2 separate regions of the Homo sapiens genome follow, and region 1 is linked to region 2. A link means that fine-mapping ties the variant in region 2 to the expression of a gene that starts in the linked region. Tissue or cell type: whole blood. Region 2 holds a variant in brackets; the other region holds the start of a gene. All regions are shown on one strand. Distances are between the middles of the regions.

Region 1 (8,099 bases), 44 kb after region 2:
TGTCTCAAAAAAATAAAATAAAATAGATCCCAGGGTACTCATTTTTCATATGAGGGAGGCTGGGTTCCTCCCAGAGGAGCCTAAAACAGCCAACAAGAGAAATTGTTGGCGGCAGGAAGATTGCAGAGGAATTCTAATGCAATTATTTGGGACCTCAAATGGAATAAAATGAAAGATATTGGTTAAACATGTCTTCGTTTAATACTTTCAAGACAAAATATCCACTAGCTATTCACTTATTCATTCATCTCATAAACATGAGCCAGGCTCTGTGCAGGGTCCTGAGTACCCAGCCATAAATGAGACTGTGCCCCTGTCTCATGGGGCTTACAGTCTATATCCTGCTTGCAAGACAGCCAATAAGTCAATAAAGAAGATAATTACAGGCAGTACAACAAAGGAAATATGCAGGTTCATGTCATGTAATAGGGATTAATTGAGTTAACTCAATAAACGGTAGGATAGACCTACCATGTGCCGGCTCACTTTTATTGAGCCTTTACTATGTGCCAGGCAGGGGGCTAAGTGTTTTTAAATGCCTTATTTCACTTCATGTTTCCCAACAACCTAATAAGAAGGTCTTAGTTATCTTCATTTTACAGATGTGGCAACCTCAAAGATGCAAAGTCACTTGTCTAAGGTCACCCTGCTAAGTACCAGAGCTGAGGTCTCCAACCTAGTTCTGTTTGACTTCAAAGCCTGCCCTCTTAACCACTAACCTTTTGTCCTAGTTCAGTCAAATTCTGCTTGATTATTGCTCATTAGGGATAATATTAGCTATCTGTAGCATCAGATTGCTGCAAAGTTAACTCATCGTAGATTCTCAATATACTCCATTTTATTAAATGGCCCCGTATTAATCTCCTGTAATAAATTTCACAAATCCAGTGGCTTATCAACAGAAATTTACTGTCTCATAATTCTGGAGGCCAGAAGTCAAAATCAAGATGTGGTAGGGCCCTGCTCCCTCCAAAAGTTTAAGGGGAGAATTATTCCTTGACTCTTTCAACTTCTGGCAGTCCCTGTCATTCCTTGGCTTGTGGAAACATCACTCCTACCTCTGACTCTGTCTTCATATGGCATTTCCTCTGTGTCTCTTGGTGTCTTTTTTTTTTTTTTTTTTTTTTTTGAGACGGAATCTCATTCTGTTGTCCAGGCAGGAGTGCAGTGACATGATCTTGGCTCACTGCAACCTCCACCTCTCAGGTTCAAGTGATTCTCCTGCCTCAGCCTCCCAAATAGCTGGGACTACAGGCACCCGCCACCACACTCAGCTAATTTTTGTATTTTTAGTAGAGATGGGGTTTCACCATCTTGCCCAGGCTGGTCTTGAACTCCTGACCTCAAGTGATCCGCCCACCTTGGCCTCCTAAATTGCTGGGATTACAGACGTGAGCCACCATACCCGGCCTGGTGTCTTTTTTAAAGAATATCAGTCACTGGATTTGGGCCCACCCTAATCCTAATAGTATGACTTCATCTTAATTTAACCAATTATATCTGTAGAGACCCTGTTTCCAAATAAGGTCACATTCACAGATTCCAGGTGGACAAGAAGTTTAGGCGGACACTATTCAACTCAGTACAGACCCAGGAACAAAGTCCACCCACTGGGCTGTGTTGAGTGGCAGTCACTAGTTTATCCTCCCTCAACAAGATGAGCTCCAGGTTGACCTCTGCATCCCCAGTGCTCAGTCAGGACCCAGCAGAGCATCTGAAGGGATCTGGTCAATATGTGTGGAACTGAACTGTTTCTGAAAAGCTCTGACGTATGTTTTGGAAAATCAAATCTTGTTTTAATCCAGACACCAATCTTTTTGTAAGGCAAACAAGTAGCATAAATGTTTAAAAGTGAATTTGCATGTTTATATACTGTCATTCCTTAAAGTTGAAGCATGCCTTTCTTTATTCATCGGTGGAATCCTTTCTCATTTTGGCAAAGAAAATGCCCAAGTGCCTGGCACAAACAAGCACTGAGTAAATACTTCTTGAATGAATAAAACTAGATTCTAAAAATCATTTGATCAAACGCAACTCCACACTTTCTACTTCTCTTCTTTTAGAACCACACTGTATTTCTGCTTTTTTTTTTTTTTTTTTTTTTTTTGACATAGAATCTCACTCTGTCACCCAGGTTGGAGTGCAGTGGCATGCAATCTTGGCTCACTGCAACCTCTGCCTCCTGGGTTCAAGCAGTTCTCCTGCCTTAGCCTCCCATGTAGCTGGGATTACAGGTACCCGCCACCATGCCCAGCTAATTTTTGTATTGTTAGTAGAGATGGAATTTCACCATATTGGCCAGGCTGGTCTTGAACTCCTGACTTCAAGTGATCCACCCACCTTAGCCTCCCAAAGTGCTAGGATTACAGGTGTGAGCCACCACTCCCAGCCCCTATGTCTGCTTTAAGTGGAGAAGCAGAGCTTATGAGGGAGGAGAACAAGGGTGCAAAAGGGACCTAGATATCACTGAGAACTGCCCTTGTTGTTTGGTTGAGGAAATGGGCCCAGACAGTGGACAAGACTTGCTCAGGGAGACAAACGAGATGGTGTCCAGTGCAACAAACCTAGGTTTCCTAACTTCCAGTTCTGTCCACTCTACATCAGTGCCTCTCACCTGTCCCTGCAGGTTCACATTTTGGTTATGTGGATAAGGAGAAATAAATTGAAGATCACAATGTCCCATTTTATCTTCCCCAAGACAAGCTCTGTAACATTAAAGACCACTATGCAAACCGATTACTAGAAAATGTGTGTGGATGGGTTCGGTTTTTTTCCTAAGGTGTTCATGCTTACTGTTTTGGGCAATATTTCAACATAATCTGGCAGAAAAAGAAACAGAAGATAAAGAAAATAGCTGTAGGCCGGGTGCAGTGGCTCATGCCTGTAATCCCAGCACTTTGGAAGGCTGAGGCTGGCGGATCACTTGAGGTCAGGAGTTCGAGACCAGCCTGGCCAACACGGCGAAACCCCATCTGTATTAAAAATACAAAAATTAGCCAGGCGTGGTGGCGTACCTGTAAACCCAGCTACTCGGGAGGCTGAGGCAGGAGAATGGCTTGAACCCAGGAGGTGGAGGTTGCAGTGAGCTGAGATTGCAGCACTGCATTCCAGCCTGGGCGACAGAGCAAGACTGCATCTCAAAAGAAAAGAAAAGAAAAAAGAAAAGAAAAGAAAAGAAAACAGCTGTGATTCAGCAATAGTCATTTTCTCTCCTTGTCACTGCCAGAGTGAGGAAGTGCTGGGTTCTGTCAACATAGGCTCTGACTTCTCATGAGGTGCAAGAAAGAAGCAGCATGAACAAAGGCATAGATTTTGCACCTGGAGACACGTATTCTAGTCCCACCTCTGACTCAAACTAGCTGCATGATCTTGGGCAGCCCCCCAGCCCTCTCTGGGCTTCAGTTCCCTCCTCGGTACAATGGGAAGGGTAGGGAAGAGGATGGTGCCTAGGATCTTCAAAGTCCCAACTCTGATGTGCTGCCATTCTCTCACTGGCATGTGGGAACTGAGTGTGCTACGTGGAGTCATGAGACTTCTTCTTCCTTTTCTTTTTCTTTTTTTTTTTTTTTTTTTTTGAGACCGAGTCTCACTCTGTCGCCCAGGCTGGAGTGCAGTGGTGCGATCTCGGCTCACTGTAACCTCCACCTCCCGAGTTCAAGCAATTCTCCTGCCTCAGCCTCCTGAGTAGCTGGGATTACAGGCGCACCCCATGCCCGGCTAATTTTTGTATTTTTAGTAGAGATGGGGTTTCACCATGTTGGCCAGGCTGGTCTCAAACTCCCGACCTCAGGTGATCTGCCCACCTCGGCCTCCCAAAGTGCTGGGATTACAGGCGTGAGCCACCTTGTCTGTTCAGAGACTTCTGACTTCCGTATTTCCCTCGCTAATGGCCTCACCTCCCGTTTGAGTATGTGCAGCATGTGCAAATTGCAGAGGAACTGGGGAACTTCCCTGCCAGGCAATCCTGGGTCCTCTTGGCTCTCCACTTCCTCCTTCCTTCCTTCCTTCCTCCTTCCTTCCTTCCTTCCTTCCTTTCTTTCTTCCTTGGTCTGGCTCTGTCGCCCAGGGGCTGGAGTGCAGTGGCGGTATCTCGGTACAAACTAAGCTATTTGAAATGCCTCGGAATTCCCAAAGAAAGCTCAGTAAATACCAGACAGATGAAACGGTCCTGCCCGCTCTCCCTCTTTCAGTACCCAGTTTTCTCTTTCCTCTCCTTTCATAACGTTTCTTCCCATCATCCCTCTACCTCCTTATTTCTGTCAGGGCTGTTAGATACCCTTCCGGTCTGTTATCTCCTCCTCCAGCCTTGTGCTACAGGACAACTCAAAAGCCCCCTATGGCTCCCAAGTGATCACTAAATAAAACTCGTGATCTCACTTCAGCCTACCCCTGCAGGATTGCTGCGGCAAAATGGACTACTCCCAGAGGCGTGATCACGGTTCGGTTCACTGCAGCCCAGACTTCCCGGGCTCAAGCGATCCCGAACCTCCCACCTCAGCCTCTCGAGTAGCTGGGACTCCAGACGTGCACCACTACGCCAGGCTCATTTTGTTTATTTTTTATAGAGACAGGCTAGTCTCCAACTTGTGGGCTCAGAGCGATCCTCCCGCCTCGACTTCCGAAAGTGTTAGGATTACAGGCGTGAGCCACTGCGTCCGGCTCAATGGACTCCTTCTTAAATGTGAGTTCTCCGCACACACTGGGCCTTGCTCACCTCCACGATTTAACCTCGCAGTTAAGTCCCTTTTCAAGGTTTTTATTCGTCCTTCAGCGAAGCGCTGTCAACGCCTCCCTGCGTCTTTCCCTTCTTGAGCACCAGAGGGCGCTCCTCCGACCCGAGGAGGAAGCGACTCGGGCCAACCTGTCCAGGTTGTCCCACCCCTTTTTCCTTCCGGGCCAATCGTTAGTCAGAGTGGGCGGAGCCGCCCGCGGGCACCTGCGCGTTAAGAGTGGGCCGCGTCGCTGAGGGGTAGCGATGCGGGCTCCGGGGATGAGGTCGCGGCCGGCGGGTCCCGCGCTGTTGCTGCTGCTGCTCTTCCTCGGAGCGGCCGAGTCGGTGCGTCGGGCCCAGCCTCCGCGCCGCTACACCCCAGACTGGCCGAGCCTGGATTCTCGGCCGCTGCCGGCCTGGTTCGACGAAGCCAAGTTCGGGGTGTTCATCCACTGGGGCGTGTTCTCGGTGCCCGCCTGGGGCAGCGAGTGGTTCTGGTGGCACTGGCAGGGCGAGGGGCGGCCGCAGTACCAGCGCTTCATGCGCGACAACTACCCGCCCGGCTTCAGCTACGCCGACTTCGGACCGCAGTTCACTGCGCGCTTCTTCCACCCGGAGGAGTGGGCCGACCTCTTCCAGGCCGCGGGCGCCAAGTGAGTGTGGTCCCGGGGAGCGGCGCCCCTTCCCGGCTCGGGCGGCAAACAGGAGGTGGGGCTGGGCGGCCAGCTGGGGCGCGCAGCTGCCGGTCGCCCCCATGACCCCGGGGCCCGCGTGTGGCCTCCTGCGGCCACAGGAGTGAGCCTGGCACACCTGATGAGGAGGAGGAGGTGCGTTTGACTGGGGACTGATAAATGAAGGTTCAGGGAGATGGCAGGCTGGGAAGCCCTGGGTATCTGCACCTGTGCACCGAGAGGGCTGAGTTAGGCCATACCTGATGTCCCTTTCAGATTGACAGCACTATCAGGACTCCAGGGTTTCAAATCAGTGGTGTGGAGCCTGGTTCTAATTCAACTGTGAACCTGGACATGTCACTTCAGCCTCCCTGCAGCCTCTTCTATGGTTGTAGAAAGGGGTTATATAAGGATACAACCCTTTGAGCCCTAATGTCTCTAAGAGGGAAAGAGAGGGGAGTTCTGGTGTGCAGTGTATTTGGGCAACAGTACAGATAGTCATTCGTTTGCTCCTCTCAATCCCTTTTACGTAGGAAGTGTCCAGGAAGGGTCTGACTCTCTCTGAGAACTGTTGGAACTTGGGGGTGGCTGGTTCAGAGAACAGAGTAGAGAGCGCTGGGGTGGGGATAAGGGGAGACCACGACCCATGAAGTTGTCAAGGCAGGGGCTTGTCCTGAAGGAGTGAGCCTTGAGAGCCCTGTATTGACAGATGTTAAGTCAGGGAGTGGTTACTATCAGCTTCTAGAAAGATTCATTCGGCTGCTGGGAGAGAAGTGGGTTGGAGAAGAGTAAAAATGGAGGCGGGGAGGTTTCCCCAGCCCCTGGCTTAGAGCAGTCTTCCATCCTTACCTTGGTTCCTCAGCCATCTTCCGGGTTTTCGTTTCTCTTGAACTTTGAATTCACTTGTACTAAAGAGAAGTTACAACTGGCATTTAGTGTTTGCCATTAAATGTATGGGAGTATAAGACTTGATTAAGCAGAGGAAGTGTTTGTCTCCTAGGGGCCTTAGGGATCCATAACTTACAAGTGAGAAAAATTAAAATCTGGGAGATAACCTCTTTCCATGCCTTTTATTTCATGGATGAGATGACTGGCCCAAAGAGAGGAAGGAATATAATGTCCTAGACTCCAGGTCTCATGACGTCAAGGTTGTTTCCACTGCACCAGGGTCTGCAAACTGGCCAGAGGGATTGGTCCTCTGCCAGTTTTTTAAGGCCCATGAGGTGAGAATGGTTTTTACATTTTTAAAGGGTTGTAAAATGTTTTAAAGAAGAATACACTACAGAGAGGAATGTGCTCCCACAGAGCCTAAAATACTATCTGGCCCTTCAAATCCTGGAGTTCCCTACTCTGGCCAATGATTGAACCATAAAGTGCATTACCTATTTTTGTGCCATAAAAGCAAATTAAATATTGAGTGATTTGGTTGTTATTTCAACACTTGCCTTTTCTCCCAGTTATTGGGTCTTTTGTCACCTCTATAATAAATGAGAGGCAATTTATGTAGGCTTGGTAAACCAAACAGCTTAGTTTTCTAGAAAGTTTTCTATTTTGTTGTTATTGTTGTTTTGAAACAGTTTTGCTCTGTAGCCCAGGCTGGAGTACAGTTGCATGATCTCGGCTCACTGCAACCTCTGTCTCCCAGGCTCAAGTGATTCTTATGCCCCAGCCTCTCAAATACCTGGGACTACAGGCACACACCACCATGCCCGGCTAATTTTTGTATTTTTAGTTGAGATGGGTTTTCGCCTCATTGGCCAGGTTGGTCTTGAACCCCTGACCTCAGGTAATCCGCCCACCTTGGCCTCCCAAAGTGCTGGGATTACAGGTGTGAGCCACCATGCCTGGCCAGCAAATGGCTTAGTTTTCTATTATCTGCCATTTCCAGTAGAGCTCTTTCTCCTTCAGGGCAAAGAATGAAAGAAAGTTAATCGTTCCTACCAGAAGTGTTGAAGAATCAGAGAGCTAAGGTGCACTTCTTTTCCCTTACCCACTCCTTCCTTCCCTCTGGGCCTCCTCCTTTGCTGGGGACTGAGGGTTGGGACTTCCTCAAATCTGCTTCCATTCTTGGAGCAATGCCCAAGGGGAATTGTGACTGCAGCAGCTTCCTGGATATCACTAATATAGTCACTGGTACAAGTACATTTGTTGTGGTCAAGTTCTTTCAGCTATTTAAAAAGCCTCAGGCATGCTGGGCAAGTTCATGCAAGTTCACTGCCCACTTCCTTTGCTCATGTGGTTTTGCTGTCCACAGGTATGTAGTTTTGACGACAAAGCATCACGAAGGCTTCACAAACTGGCCGAGTCCTGTGTCTTGGAACTGGAACTCCAAAGACGTGGGGCCTCATCGGGATTTGGTTGGTGAATTGGGAACAGCTCTCCGGAAGAGGTGAGTGTCCAGGGATGGTTACTCTGTTATCTCTTTGGATCTGGCTGTCAAGAGTTCTGTACCTCCTCTACTTGCGTGTGTTTTCTAGGTTTGCATATAGCAAGTAGCCTGAAGGGCTTTTGGCCTTCTACTCCTGTGTGTTTTCTAGGTTTGCATATAGCAAGTAGCCGGAAGGGCTTCTGGCCTTTGAATTGGCAGTGTTTGATGCTTCACAGTTTTCACGTGACCAAAGGGGACACCGTTACAGAAGTTCATGGCCATGTCTGGTTAGATGAAGGATACCCAACATAGACTACGATGCTACTTGATGTCCTGTTTGAGGAGTAGG
Region 2 (8,102 bases):
TACAGGCATACATCACCATGCCCAGCTAATTTTTTATTTTTTGTAGAGACAGGGTCTCGCTATGTTGCCTGGGCTGGTCTCGAACTCCTGGGCTCAAGCAATCCTTCCTTCCTCCTCGGTCTCCCACAGGCCTGGGATTACGGACATGAGCCACCATGCCTGGCTTTGAACCATCTTAGGGTCAGTTGGTTCAGACAGTGCAAAGACTGCTTCCCTGTGGCCTGACAGGAAAAGTATACCTCTCGGGAATGTTCCTCCTCAGATCAGACCCTCAATATGACAGCACTCGGCCCCAGCATGGGGTAGATCCATCCTGTAGATGGCGGCATCTCACAGTACAAGGGCTGCTGAGGCCAGCTCTACCCAAGGAGCTGAGAAAACCGCCTCCTAAACCCTCACCTACAATTGCTCCTGGCCCTCCCAGGGCAAAAAGAGAACAGACTTCCCCTGTGGGCCCCATCAGCCCTGCCCAGGGGACTGAGAGATCATGGAGCTTCCTTATTGATTCTCTTGTCCAGTGCTGCCCATAGGGAGTCCAAGGACCGACAGCATCTGCTTCCCCTGGGAATTAGTTAGAAATGCAGATTCTTGGGCCCCATCCCAGAATACTGAATCAGAATCTCTGGGAGTGGGGCCCAGCAATCTGTGTTTTGGGGTTTTGTTTTTCAAGTCAAGGTTCTCTCTCTGTCACCCAGCCTGGAGTGCAGTAGCATAATCAGAGCTCACTATAACCTCAAACTCCTGAGTTCAGGCAAGACCTCCTCCCGCCTCAGCCTCCCAGAATGCTGGGATTACGGGCATGAGCCTCCTCACCCGGCCCCAATCTGTGTTTTAACAGGCCCTGTGGGTGACTTCCATGCACTCAGGCGTTTCAGGGGCACCTGTTATCTCCAACTTCCTCATTTTAGGAATGGAGAAATTGAGAACAGATACAGGAAGCAACTTGTTGGTCAGCCAGGCAATGGCAGAGACCACACAAAAACTCCGCTTCCCAGCGTTCCTTCCACTTGAACTTTCAGTAACTTCCTTTCTTTCTTCCTTCGTTCATTCATTCCTTCACTCATTCATGCCTTCCACCTCCAATTACATGCTTTGGGCTGCAATGGAGGACCAGGCGTTTGGGGACAGCCTCACCCTTCTTCCCCATGTGGGGCTTTCTCAAGGCCAGAGGTCTAGGATTCAGGATTGTGGAAGCATCTGCTAGATCTCTTCCAGCTCACCCCTGGGTCTCCAATTCCAGCCCAGATAGGAGTCTGATGTAGGCTGCAGGCGGGCCCCACTCCCCAGCTCCTTCTGGTCTTCTTTTCCTCTTTCTTGGCACCTGGGGCTCTCTGTCCCATTCCTCACTGCCAATGTCTTGCTCTTGGGAGAGATGCAAGGGCTGGAGGCTGTTACTGTTCCATTTCCCAAAGGGATGAATGATCAAATTAAAGGCCCTTCCCAGCAATGGCTTTGCGCTGAAGGAGCCAGGACTAGGTCCAGACCAGGGTTCGCAAGTTAGCATCTTGAGCTGGATAATTCCTTGCTGTAGGGCTGTCCTGTGCATTGCAGAATGGTTAGCAGCATTCCTGGCCTCTCCCTAGCAGATGTCAGTAGAATTCCTCCACCAGGTTGTGACAACCAAAAATGTCTCCAGATATTGCCAAGTGTCCCCTCTGGGTGGTGTTGCCAGATAAGACAGAGAATGCCTGGTTACATTCTTTTTTTTCTTTTTCTTTTTTCTTTTTTTTTTTTTTTTGAGACAGAGTCTCACTCTGGAGCCCAAGCTGGAGTGCAGTAAGGCGATCTCGGCTCCCTGCAACCTCCGCCTCTGTGGCTCAAGCATTTCTCATGCCTCAGCCTCCTGAGTAGCTGGGACTACAACTACGCACCACCACACCCAGCTAATTTTTTGTATTTTAGTAGAGATGAGGTTTCACCATGTTGCCCAGGGTGGTCTTGAACTCTTGATCTCAGGCAGTCCATCTGCCTCTGCCTCCCAAAGTGCTGGGATAACAGGCGTGAGCCACCACGCTAGGCTGAGCATTCTAATCGCACATAAGCAACAAGTAATTTTTAGTGCCTGAATGTCTCAACTATTGTTGCATTACCTCACATACTTATTTTTGTGGTGAGAACACTTAAAATCTACTCTCCATCATCTTCAAGAATATAATTCATTGGGCCAGGTGGGGTGGCTCATGCCTGTAACATTTTTTACTTGAAGAATCTTGCAACTCTACCTCAGGGGCAAAATCTTTCTTCATTGGCCCAGATCAGGGTCTGGGGTGTGGGGAGCAGTTAGTGAGAGGATCTGATGAGATAATCATAGGCCATGAGTTTACAAGGGCAAAAACTTTGCCATAATCATCTCTGTATCCTTAGAATATAATGGCGTCTCATTAAATATTTTATCTGAGAGTGGGTGTGAGGACACTTGGAACTATATCAGATACCATACCTGAGTACATCCAGCCCAGGACTGGACATTAGGGACATACTCCCTAATAAATATAAACTGAAGATAATGTTTAGTTTGACTCACATAGCATTTTTTAAAGGTGTGACTTTGGGCTTTACATTCTAAAATTGGCAACTGGCTGAGCATGGTGGCTCATGCCTGTAATCCCAACACTTTTGGAGACTGAGGCGGGAGGATTTGCTTGAGCCCAGGAGTTCAAAACCAAGCTAGGCAACATAGTGAGACCCCCATCTATACAAAAAAATTAAAAAAAAAAAATAGCCAGGTGTGGTGGCACATGCCTGTTCTGCCGGCTACCTGGAAGGCTGAGATGGGAGGATCACTGGAACCCAGGAATTTGAGGCTGCAGTGAACTATGATCGTGCCGCTGTACTCCAGCCTGGGCAACAGAGCGAGACCCTGCCTCAAAAAATTAAAATAAAATAAAATAAAGTAAAATAAAATAAACAGGAAGTGGCTGGGCGTGGTGACTCACCCTGTAATCCTAGCACTTTAGGAGGCCAAGGTGGGTGGATCACTTGAGGTCAGGAGTTCAAGACCAGCATGGTCAACATGGCAAAACCCTGTCTCTACTAAAACTACAAATTAGCTGGAGGTGGTTGTGTGCACCTGTAGTCCCAGCTACTCAGGAGGCTGAGGCAGGAGAGTTGCTTGAACCCAGGAGGCAGAGGTTGCAGTGAACCGAGATTGCGCCATTGCACTCCAGCCTGGGCAATAGAGCGAGACTTGGTCTCAAAACAAAAACAAACAAACAAAAAACAAAACACACACACACACACACACACAGGAAGCTATCACATAAGTCAAGATTTCTGGTATCTCTTGAAAAATACAGCACAACTTCCAAATGCTTGGAATATCTGACAATTTGCCTATACTCCCAAGCAGAAAAGCTTGGCTGGAACTAAGAGGTACCTGCCCCTCTCTACTGGCCCAGATCAGGGTCTGGGGTGTGGGGCAGATACCTCTCAGCTGGGCCAGTAGAGAGGGTCAGGTACCTCTCAGCTCCAGCCAAGCTTTTCCACTTGGGTCCTGTGTTCCCCCTATTACCCACAGTCCCTACCACTCCCTATTGCCCCACACCAGGATCCATCACCCATTATGTTAATCTGCCTGTAGGCATTTGCATTTCAAAGCTCTGGCCTAGTGGTGAAGAGGCATTGGAATGGCATGTCCTTTTAGGTGATCTACTGTAATGTTGGTGCATTATCCCCATTTTACAGATAAAGAAACTTGCCTTTGGGGAAGTTAAGTGAATCAACATTTTAACGAGGCTGTATTAGAACCCAAGTCCCTTGACTCCAGGGTCTAGGCCCATGCCCCACCCTGGCCAGAGTTCGTTGTAAGAGATAAC[TCAACC/C]GCAGGGGCAAGAGCATTGTGGCACCAGGGACCTGGAGGGGAAGTGGTAACAGGCACGGAAGGCCAGACCTCCTCACACTCACTCATCTGTGAGAAAGTACAAAAGCAAGAGAAAGCTGGCTTGGGGTGGCACTCAACAGGTGCTCTGAGTGGCACCCACGGCCAGGTCCTGGGAGAGGACAGAAAACAACTGGGACTCCTCAGCCCCCGGCAGCTCCCAGTGCCCAGCCACCCACAACACAACCGTGAGTAGCTTTTTTTGTTGTTTATTTTAGGCTTCTTCCTCATTCCCCAACACCTGTATTCTTTTTTGTTTGTTTGTTTGTTTTTGAGACGGAGTTTTGCTCTGTTGACCAGGCTAAAGTACAGTGGCACAATCTCGGCTCAGTGCAGCCTCACAGGTTCAAGCGATTCTCCTGCCTCAGCCTCCCGTGTAGTTGGGATTACAGGTGTGCACTACTGCGTCTGGCTAATTTTTGTATTTTTAGTAGAGACAGGGTTTCACCATGTTGGCCAGGCTGGTCTCGAACTCCCGACTTCAGGTGATCTGCCCACCTTGGCCTCCCAAAGTGCTGGGATTACAGGCATGAGCCACTGCACCTGGCCAAAACCTGTATTCTTACCTTATCCCTTCCCTCCAGGGACACAAGAAGCCAGGTGGGCCTGTCTGGGGCAGGGGATAGATGTCATTTCAGGACACCTGGGGTTGTGGAGGACCAGTCGCAGGAAAGTTCAGGGCTGGCATCCCCCTCCTAGGACCAAGAATCAGGACTTTGGCTTTCATTTCATTACAGAGACAAGAATCACACACACAGAGATGGCCTTACTGTGTGCCAGGCGCTGCCCTAAGAGCCTTTAGTGGTTGGATTTATTTAATCCTCACAACAGCCGTATGCAGTAGGAGCTATCACTGTTGTCCACTTGATAGGTGGGGGCTAGGTGACCCACCTGAAATCATGCGGGCATTGAATGAGAGCATTGGCTTGAGCCTAGGCACTCCGGCTTCGCGGCCCACCCTTCAGCCACCAGGCTATCCTGCCTTACGAGGTGTGGACTGCAACAGTAGATGGGGGCCAGGAAATGACAGGGGCTGGCAGAGGCCTTTGAGATGACCAGGTGAGTCCTGCGCTCTCATTTTATAGATGGGGAGACCACAAGGTAGTGTTAGGGGCACACTGGACTCAGGAGGCCAGGGGTCTGCTTTGGTGTAAGTTCCACTCAGCGGAGGGAAGAGCAGTATTTTCCAGTGTGCCCTGGGGTCAGCGTCCAGGTCTGAATCCCAGCTCTGCCACTGGTAGCTCGATGGCCTAATGCAAATCACTCCATTTCTTTCCTGCTCAGCTTCCTCTTCTGAGAAACATGGGCCTGAGAAGGTCACTCACAGGCTTGTTGCGAGTCAACTGTCTGATGCGGGCACAGGGCGGGCAGCAGCACAGGGCTCGGGAATGGCTGTGGTGGAGAGTTTGATCTTCACCCCATCTGCTCTTGCTGTGGATCTGAGATGAGGATAAAATGAGGCCTGGCTGCTTTTCCCTGGAATGAGTGGCAAGTAGACACGTTGGCAGCATGAAAACCAGGATGGAGGCTGGGGAGAAGTTCAGGGAGAGCTCAGGAGGTGGAGTCCCAATAATCCTGGCCCCAGCTCTGTAACCACCTTGTGGCTTACCAGAGTGACCCCCTAACCTGCGCTGGGCAGGTGAAGCATATCCTTTACCCTTTGGCCGGCTAAGGCCAGGATAAGGCAGTGAAGACGGGAAAATGGCAGCCTGGCTCAGCCAAGCAGAGCCCTCCAGCGCCAGCCCCCTCTCTTCCCACCTCATTTTACAGTACCAGTCACTCTTACTGCACACCCTCGGGTGTGCATAAATTGATCTTTTCTTTATTCAGTTGAAGTCACATTCAATAGGACCCTGAGCCTCATCCTACTGGGCTAGGAGGAAATTTAATCTCCAAGTGCACTGAGCTTCCCTCACTCCCATCCCCACCCATGCACATTGACCCAGAGGACACACAGAACATAAGCGTGAGGGAGGCTCCTGGGTCCTCCTACGATGGATGCCCATTGCCCAAATGGACTTGATTGTCTGAAGTCCAGCCTTGCCCACTTCCCTGGCATGCCTGGAGTCCAGATTCTTTGTAAGACCTGAAACCACTGTGTCTCATTTTGACATCCAGGATATATCACCCAGTGACTTCCCCCAGAGGTCCTGCCATCTTCCCAGAAAGCAAATTCTAGGTGCCCAAGACCTCGGTCCCCTCCCAGCCAAGGACAATCTCTCCTCTCCCCTTGGCTGTGGATGGCAGATGGACACTCTTCTCTCCCCACCCCCCACCCACGTGACCTAACCTTCTCACTGCGCTCAGGTTCTCAGGAAAGGACAGGAAGAAGGGTTGTCTTCAAATAGCTTCTGCTTCCTACTCTCACCCCTGAAAAAAGTCCCCGAGCCACGAGACACAAAGGGCACTCTGAAAAGAGACAGGCAGCCCTATCTTACAGATGAGAAAAACCAAGACTCAGCAGCAGTGTTGACTTGCTCAGTGTCACACAGCCAAGGAATAGCGGAGCCAGTGTGAGCAGAGAGTCCTGCGCTGTGGGTTCAGAGCTTGTGCTATCAATCACATGGAATCACATGGAAACCCAAGTCTCCCTCATCAATTACTCAGGCAACCTGGGGCAAGTTACATCACCTTTCTGAACCTCAGTTTCTTCAACTCTAAAAATGACGCTATCATAGCATTCCCAACCTGCCTCAAAGGGGCTCTTGTTTTTTGTTTTTTGTTTTTTTGTTTTGTTTTCTTTTCTTTTCTTTCTTTTTTTTTTTTTTTTTTTTTTTTTGAGACAGCGTTTTGCTCTTGTTGCCCAGGCTGGAGTATAATGGCGTAATCTCAGCTCATTGCAACCTCTGCCTCCTGGGTTCAAGCGATTCTCCTGCCTCAGCCTCCCAAGTAGCTGGGATGACAGGCATGCACCACCACGCCCGGCTAATTTTGTATTTTTAGTAGGGATGGGGTTTCTGCATGTTGGCCAGGCTGGTCTCGAGCTCCCGATCTCAGGTGATCCGCTCTTGTTTTTTTCTTAAGCGAAGATTGATGAAGCATTTACTACACATTTGAGCTCTGTGACCGTTCCTCATTAAGTCCTCACCACAGCCTAGGAGGGGGCTGCTATCACTAACCACATTTGCAAGGTGAGAAACTGAAGCTCACACAAGCTTAAGACTTATCCAAGGGGCCGGGCATGGTGGCTCATACCTGTAAGCTTGGCACTTTGGGAGGCCCAGGCAGGAGGATAGCTTGAGCTCAGCACTTCAAGACCAGTCTAGGAAACATAGTGAGACCCTATCTCTACAAAAAAAAAAAAAAAAAAATTAAAAATTAGCCAGGCATGGTGGCACATGCCTGTGGTCCCAGCTACTCAGGGGGCTGAGGTGGAAGGATTGTTTAAGCCTGGGAGATTGAGGCTGCAGTGAGCTATTATTGCCTGGGTAACTGAGCAAGATACTGTTTCAAAAAAAAAAAAAAGAAGGAGAGAGACTTGTCCACAGTCCCATAACTGGTGGTAATGGCAAAGCTGAGACTCAAGTCCAGGTCAATCTGGATCCAGAACCAAGCCATATTGTGGTGGGAATCAAAATAGGAGAACGGGAGTGGAAATGCCTCTAGGTATGGAGATGCAGGGCAGGCTCGGGGACTCATGATCAGGGTTGTCTTTACTGTGTCGCTCGCCAGGCTGCGTTTCAGATGCCATCACATGGACAACCCGAGAACCTGCGCTGGGGAGGAAATTGGAGGGATATCATATGAATATGGCCGGCTTCTCTCCTCCCACCCCAAACTGAGCAGTCCAATCCAGTCTTGTGAGGTGTCTACTCTGTGCCAAGACCCTGAGGCTCTAGCCCTTGGCCCAGGTGACTTCCTGTTTCCATGATGATCTCTGACAGACCTTCCCTGACTGTGCTTAGGCATTATCTTATGTAATCCTCACCTCGGTCCTGTAAAGGCAATTCTCTTTCTCTCCCCAAGCTATAAATGAGGACACTGAAGTCTCGGGAGAGGGCAGAGTGGGAACCCACGCACAGCCAAGGCTCTCGGTCCCCAGCTATGCTGCAGGGACCACCAGAAGAGTAAGATCAGGTCTCAGCCTTCTTCCAGCAGAACCCAGAACAGTGTAAAACTGTTCTCTTTTCCCTCCATCTCCTGGGGAGAGAAAGGATGTACTCAGTCCTCACGCCATGCAGCAAAGACCTCAAATGCCAAGGAGAGAAAATGACAGACAAGGCCA

What was found. PIP is the estimated chance that this variant, and not a neighbour inherited with it, causes the effect.
Region 1: it holds the start of FUCA1, and the variant in region 2 is fine-mapped to the expression of FUCA1 in whole blood (TOPMed, PIP above 0.99).

Annotation. Positions count from the first base shown.
Region 1 is chr1:23,865,163-23,873,261 of GRCh38, reverse strand. It overlaps FUCA1 (alpha-L-fucosidase 1), which reads left to right and starts at 4,972. Exons shown (of 8, transcript NM_000147.5): 1 at 4,972-5,364; 2 at 7,637-7,771. The coding sequence starts at 4,976. CNR2 (cannabinoid receptor 2) reads left to right here. Exons shown (of 2, transcript NM_001841.3): 2 at 1-2,747. RefSeq lists a silencer at 5,341-5,560 and an enhancer at 6,811-8,010.
Region 2 is chr1:23,909,209-23,917,310 of GRCh38, reverse strand. CNR2 (cannabinoid receptor 2) reads left to right here and starts at 3,949. Exons shown (of 2, transcript NM_001841.3): 1 at 3,949-4,065. RefSeq lists enhancers at 221-270, 3,623-4,137, 4,911-5,080 and a silencer at 7,051-7,100. The variant TCAACC/C (reference allele first, on the strand shown) is at 3,816.